Linked DNA regions of Homo sapiens. The protein of the gene in region 1 interacts with the protein of each later gene in a pairwise test. Each region holds a gene or a part of one and is shown on either strand. Other genes may lie near its edges.

Evidence for each region. Proteins that work in one complex are often made in the same cells at the same time.
Region 2: the proteins of MRPL37 (region 1) and SREK1 interact in a two-hybrid assay, tested with the Homo sapiens proteins (one large-scale study listed by BioGRID).

Annotation. Positions count from the first base shown.
Region 1 is NC_000001.11:54,213,667-54,217,166, reverse strand, and holds part of MRPL37 (large ribosomal subunit protein mL37), read right to left. Parts: intron 1,027-3,500; coding exon 823-1,026; intron 1-822.
Region 2 is NC_000005.10:66,147,300-66,150,799, forward strand, and holds part of SREK1 (splicing regulatory glutamine/lysine-rich protein 1), read left to right. Parts: intron 1-3,500. UniProt on the Homo sapiens protein: Participates in the regulation of alternative splicing by modulating the activity of other splice facors. Inhibits the splicing activity of SFRS1, SFRS2 and SFRS6. Augments the splicing activity of SFRS3.

The DNA.
Region 1 (3,500 bases):
GCCTGTGTGGGGCCTGGTTGGTCCCAGAGCAGGCAGTACCCCTACTCCGCTTTCGCAGTCCTGACCCTGCTGTAGGTCTCTCCAGGGTGCATATTACTGCCTGATGCTCTATCAGGAATTTATTTAGATACTGCTACTGCCCACTACACAGAGAGCAGGCCTGGACCCCGTCAGCTGAGCAGTGGGGTGCAGCACAATGGTGCCGCAGGAGGAACTCCGTATCTGTGGGATGAAACGAATGCATCCCCAGACCCTGCCCTCAAGGATCTAGGAGCTTGGAGTTCTGTTTGGTGGAGGAAAAAAAACATGTGAAGAGGTTCTACGCACAGCAATGTGATCGTGCTCTGATGGGGGAATACGGAGGCCAGGGCAGCCCACCTGAGGCACTTAAGTGAGGGTTGGGATGGGGACGGTGGTGGTCAGAAGTTTCCCAAAATAAGAAACACTTATGCTAAACCTGGAAGGACAAGTGGAGGATAGCCTGACAAACAGTAATGGGGAGGGGAGAAGGCAAGAAGCCTCCCAGACAAAAGGAGCAGCACCTACAAAGGCCAGAGCTAATGAAGCCGCAGAGCACCCTGGGAGCTGCGAGGAGCTGGATTGGCTGGAGGGTGCAAAGGGAAGCAGGAGCTGGAGTGGAGCACTGGGCAGGGCCTTAGGTAGGGGCGGGACTGAAGGAGTCCTCCAGGCAGAGATCCCGGGTGGGAAGTCCCCAGGGCCAGGGCTCTCCTCACAGAGCACCCCAGCAATCCCACCTGAGGCTCACACCAGGTAGGAGGAGGCATGGCCCTCCTGGGTCAGGCAGGAGATGGCTCAACTTACCACAACCACTCTCTTTTTGATCACTGGGAGACACCAAAAATGCTGATAGAGGAGCTGGTCTGAGTCCACCCAGGCCAAATTCTTGACACCCTCGTTACAGTCCAGGTCTGTGGTATTCAGTTGAAACACTAGGAAATGGAAGACACGTCCATCCGTGCCCACGCTCTGCACCACCACGGGCTGCTCCAAGACCTTGGCATCATTCTGAGAGGAAAAGGGGACAAGGAAAACAAATCAGAAGCTGTGGAGTGTAAGGAACAGCACGGCCCAGGCAGCTTCTAGTTCTTCCCTTTACAACGTCCACCTACGTCCACTGAATGGCTTCTCTTTGGGACAATTAAAATAGAATGAGGAGTTCAGGGCACTGTCCAGGGCCGGGCCTTCCTTCACCCAGGCTGGCTGTGCCTCATGGCCCCAGGGTGCCTGCTCTTCTATTTGAGCACATCAAAGTAATAGTTCCTGCCACTGAGAGGCGATTTCCAGGCAAGCCAGAGTTCAGGCAGGCCAGCTGGGGGGTTAATGACAGAAATCCCTCAAACTCCTGGCGTTACTTGATAAGGACCACAGTGACATCAGCTATCAAATGTGAATCCGGAGGGTCAACGGATAGATATAATCTCATTCAGTTCTCACCCCATTTGACAGATGAGGAAACTGAGACTCAGTGAGGTAAAGTGACTTGCCGGAAGTCACGAAGATGGGTGGTGTAGAACCCAAACAGGCTCATGCCAGACCACACCCTTCCCCCACGCCCCTGCCTTGCTTCTAAGGGCCTGGCAGTCACATTCACTGGGCTTCATGCTGACGCTGCAACTCAGCACGGGCCATGTTTCTGGAGTATCCACTCCAGCCATGCCAGCGCCAGGATTTCACCAGTCAACTCCTGCTACTGATCTCTTCTAGTTACTGCCACTTGGTAATAGTAGTAACACCTAAAATCATTTACTGAAGGCCTCTCAGGTGCCAGGCATCTTGCCAGTTTTACATCAGGTCACCTCTACTCTCATAAATCTAGAGGTATATTCCCACTAACAGATAAGGAAACTGAGGTTCAGAGAGGTGGTATAATTTGCTCCAGGTCACCCATGGGGATCAGACTCCATGCTATTAAGTCACTGAAAGCCCTGTTGTTCTGGTTTAATCCTGGTGTCCCAGTGTATCTAATAGCGGCACCTCATTATTCTCAATGGTGTCCCAGTTTGGGAGATAAATCATATGGTGACCTGCTGAGACTTTGCAGCAATCCAGTTTGGTGACTGCTACTCACTGAACAAAGATCCAACAGGCAGGCCCCATGAAGCAGGCCATCCTTGATTCAAAAATGCTGCCTGTGTTCACCCCACTGGGGCTGAATCTGGCATTAGGAATACCTAATGTCAGACCTCAGTGTGGGCCACACTGGGGCTGTTGGCCTTAGAAATACCTGTTCTTAGCTGCATGAAAAATAAATAAAAAGAAAAGTACCTGTAAGTGTTAGCCGAGAATTCTGTATTGACTCTTATCTCCCTCTACAGATCAATAAAACTGCAGGTAGTACATAAATTTCTCAGCAATTTTACCTTTTACATGGAGGCTCTTCCCATAATTGCTCAACTTCACATCCCCAGGAATAATTTGTGCCTGGAGGGGCTGAAGGAGGCCTCCACTCCTACCCAACTGGGTGGTAATTAGTTGTATCGTTGCTACCCAGACTCTGATGGCAATAGCTGGCACAGAGGCTACAGCGAGTCTGCAGGCCTGGGACCAGGGTTGTGACTATCTCTGCCTCCTTCTCCTGCCTGAGTTGGGAGTAGCACATCCTTCAAAACTGGAGAGATCATGTTCCAAGCTTTGCTTCCCCACTCATTAGCTGTGGGATCTTGGACAAGTTACCTAATCTTTCGGAGCCTTCAGGAAGTATATAGTCAGAGAATGGGAATAAAGACAATTGTCCTAGGATTGGAAAGACACAAGGTCACATAAAGATCTGACAGCTACTAATTTCTTAGCTGTGTATCCTTGGGCAAGTTCCTTAGCCTCCCTGAGCCTCAGTTTCACCATCTATAAAATGAAGCTAATAGCATCTGCCACATGGGGTTAAAAAACTACAAGGATTAAATAATGCCATGTTCTGAAATTTCAGTTCAGTGGTTGCCTTTTCTTTTTTCTTTTTTTTCCTTTGAGGCACAGTCTCACTCTGTCACCCAGGCTGGAGTGTAGTGGTGCAATCTTTCAGCTCACTGCAGCCTCCGCCTCCTGGGTTAAAGCAACATTCATGCCTCAGCCTCCCGAGTAGCTGGGATTACACGTGCATGCCACCACACCCAGCTAATCTTTGTATTTTTAGTAGAGATGGGGTTTCGCCATGTTGGCCAGGCTGGTCTCGAACTCCTGGCCTCAAGTAATCCTCCCACCTTGGCCTCCCAAAGTGCTGGGATTACAGGTATGCACCATCACACCCAGCTAATCTTTGTGTTTTTAGTAGAGATGGGGTTTTGCCATGTTGGCCAGGCTGGTCTCGAACTCCTGGCCTCAAGTGATCCTCCTACCTCGGCTTCCCAAAGTGCTGGGATTACAGGCGTGAGCCACCGCACCCGGCCAGTTCAGTGGTTTTTAAACTCGAGCTTGTAGCAGCATAACTGGGGGGCTTGTTAAAACGCTGATCGCTGGGCCCCAACCCCAGGGTTTCTGATTCAGCA
Region 2 (3,500 bases), on another chromosome or scaffold:
ATAAATCAATCTCACAGCTTGTGAAACTTTCTTACACAAGTAAGAAATCCTTGTTGTTTTTTCAGTAAATTTTTCATTGAGGTTTAATGTACCTACAGAGAAGTGCACAGGTCGTAAGCGCAGGTTGATGAATCTTTACAAAGTAAACATACCTATATAACCAGCACACAGTCAGGATTATCTGCACCCTGTAAGTTCCCCGTGACCCCCTTCAAGTAACTAAAACCTGAAGGGTAAGCCTACCCTGATTTGTAACACTAGACATTTTTCCTGTGTTGATTTTTTTTGCTTGTTGATTTCCGTCACTTCTCTGGTCTTCTAAAGTTCTAAGAAAGAATGGAAAAATCTGTCAACTACTTAAGTTTATTTAGTTAAAAAAAATGTAACCACTAAAGCCACTTTATAGAAAATAGAGAAAAGGAAACAGCACTTGTGATCCCACCACTCTATCAAAGCTTCTCTCCATTTCCCTGTAGTCCTTTTCACATGCGTTAATAAATATTGGACATATTACCTCATTGGTTTTAAAAATAATTGTATAGTGCTATCATTATGTAATATATGTAATATAGCGTAATCAAAGGAATCACACTGTTATTTTACTTTTTTCACTTTGTCATAAGCATTTTCCATATTGCTGTCTTATTTATAGTAATATTTAGAGATTAGTAATTTCTGAGTGTATTGTGTGTTTTTGAAATTCTATTGTTGGATATTTTGATTGCTTTTTTTGGTATTACAAATTAGTGGATTTTAGCTAGAAATTGGGAGGTGTGTCTTTTTGATTGTCAACAATGATTAGAGGGCCTGTTGGCATTTAGTGGGTAAATGTTAGCAACTTATAAGTAGTCTTAAACAGGATGAATTGTGCTAATCCATAGGGCCACTGAAGCCCAGTGAAGAAACCCTGTTATAAATAATGCACCAACTAATATTTTTGTACATGATACTGTATGCTTCGCTCATGTTTTGGCATATCTTTTTTGGTAGGTCCTCTGTCCTCTAAAGGATGTGTATTAATGTACTGATAAAATACTGGACATATTATTACCTCATTGGTTTTAAAAATATTGTATAGTGCTATCATTATGTTTAATAAAAGACAAAATAACCAGTTAGGGCCAAGAAATTTAATTGATGCCCAAAAAGTTGGTTCTTTGGTTTCTGCGTGTACTACCCACTGAAAAGTTTTAATTTTTTTTGAAAAATTGATAAGATTTTGTATTTTAAAAAACCAAAACTTTAAGTCAACGAATGAGGTCAAACTAAAATCTGCTAAATTTGGGTACTGCTATTTTCTTCTTAAAATTTATTTCTAAAATTTTATTTATTTATTTAGTTAAGTAGAGACAGGATTTCACCATGTTGCGCAGGCTGGACTCAAACTCCTGGGCTTAAGCAGTCCGCCTGCTTTGGCATCCTAAAGTGCTGGGGTGACAGATGTGAGCCACTGTGCCTGGCCTGCTAGTTTCTATAGATGCATACATTTAGACCAAATGGAATATGTCATCCCTTTTTATGTGTTTTTTTTTCCCCCAAGGTCTTCTTCTGTTGCCCAGGCTGGTCTTGAACTCTTGGGCACAAGCAAGTACACATTTGTTTGATGAGCTATCTGTTTGTTGGCTTGCTACTCTAATAATTTTAGTTTATAATGGTCAAAATAAAATAGTGTTACCTTGCCTGAAATTTTCAAATATTTGCATTTTTATAAAGTAAATGTAAGTTGGTCTTTATTTTAAGGAAGGTAATTGGAAATGAAGATTAAGAAAATTGGCCGGGTGCAGTGGCCCACGCCTGTAATCCCAGCGCTTTGGGAAGCCGAGGCAGGCGGATCACGAGGTCAGGAGTTCGAGACCTGTCTGGCCAACATAGTGAAATCTTGTTTCTACTAAAAATACAAAAAATTAGCTGGGTGTGGTGGTGTGCACCTGTTATCCCAGCTACTTGGGAGGCGGCAGGAGAATCGCATGAACCCGGGAGGCGGAGGTTGCAGTGAGCCGGGATCCCGCCATTGCACTCCAGCTCGGGTGACAGTGTGAAACTCTGTCTCAAAAAAAAAAGGAAAAGAAAAGAAAAGAAAATTGCTTAAATCAGTGGAGTAGCCGTACCTAATATCCATACTTCCATGATGATGCTGTTCAGAACAGACCAACATTTTTTTAACCAGTTCCCAGGCTTCTGAAATGTTGGTGGCATGTCTTCAGATGTAGTTGCATTACAAACCAGACTCAGAATTCCTATTCCTGTGGATGTTTTAAGTTTGAAATGAAGTAGATTTCAACTAGGGGTATTTGGAAATGTGGTTTTAGTTTTCAGTAGTGCTTACTTAACATTTACATTCCTTCACAAAAGGATCCGTCAGTTTAGGAAATGTTGCTTCAGAGATGACTGTCAGGCTCTTGAAGATTTCAGAGGCAAAAGAGTTATTCCTGTTGGAATTGCTAGGGCTTTAGTAGGTTATTATAATCACAGATTGTTTTTGGTTAAAAAGGACAGAAACAGTGTTACCCAAGGTACATCGAGAAGAGACATTATTATTAAAAAGAAAGATTTCACTGCGTTGAAAAATAAAGATTGTAGTACAGCCAGGCCTCATGGGAACTAGTACTGGGAACCAGAAGGGTATCAGCAATCAAGATGACTATCTGCTTCTTTCTCTGCAGTGGTTATTATCAGTTCAGTTTGTTTCTATCTACTCCATTTCTTTGCATACCTATTATGTACTCATCATCTGGCTTACAGCTTGCTGTAAGTCACCTTCCAGCCCAATAGAGAGAACCTGATTGATTGATCTAGCTCATTTGGTCGAGCCTGACTTCCAAAATTAGAGGTTGCTGGTCAGCCAGGGAAATGGGCCCTTGAGACTGGTGACTAATCATTTATGGCTAGAGAAGCTTATAGGATCTTTTGAGGGTTTCACATGAGGAAACCGTGCTAAGGCCTGTGCCAAAGCAATATAGAATGTCTTGGTAGCACATGTAGGAGGCTGTACCTAATGATTGCGGTATCTTAAGATGGTTTACCAGAAGACTTGGAAATTTGAGCCTTGAAGAAGAGTGGAATTAGCATTCAAAATGGGAGTTAGCGAGGACATCGTAACCAAATGGAACAGCATATATGAAGACCCATATGTTTGTGATGTGTTGCTGGAACCACAGGTATCATTTTTGGGTGCATTTCCATGACGAGGCAAGAACAGAATAGTACCTTTAAGGAAATTTGATATGTGGAGTGACACAATGAAATTTAGTGTTTAGAAAGATCACTGTGGGAGCTTTGGTGGAAGACCATTAATAAGGATTTGAGGTTGGGTGCTGTGTGATTTCTTAAAAGCTGTTAAGTAATCCACATGAGAAATGATGAGGGTCTGAATTAAGGCATTGGTAATGAGAATGATGAAAAAACTAATGTGACAAATATTTACAAGGTACTCTAAGCAGGATATATTGACCAATTGGATGAGGACAGAAAGGTCAAGGATAATTTATCAGTTAGAATAA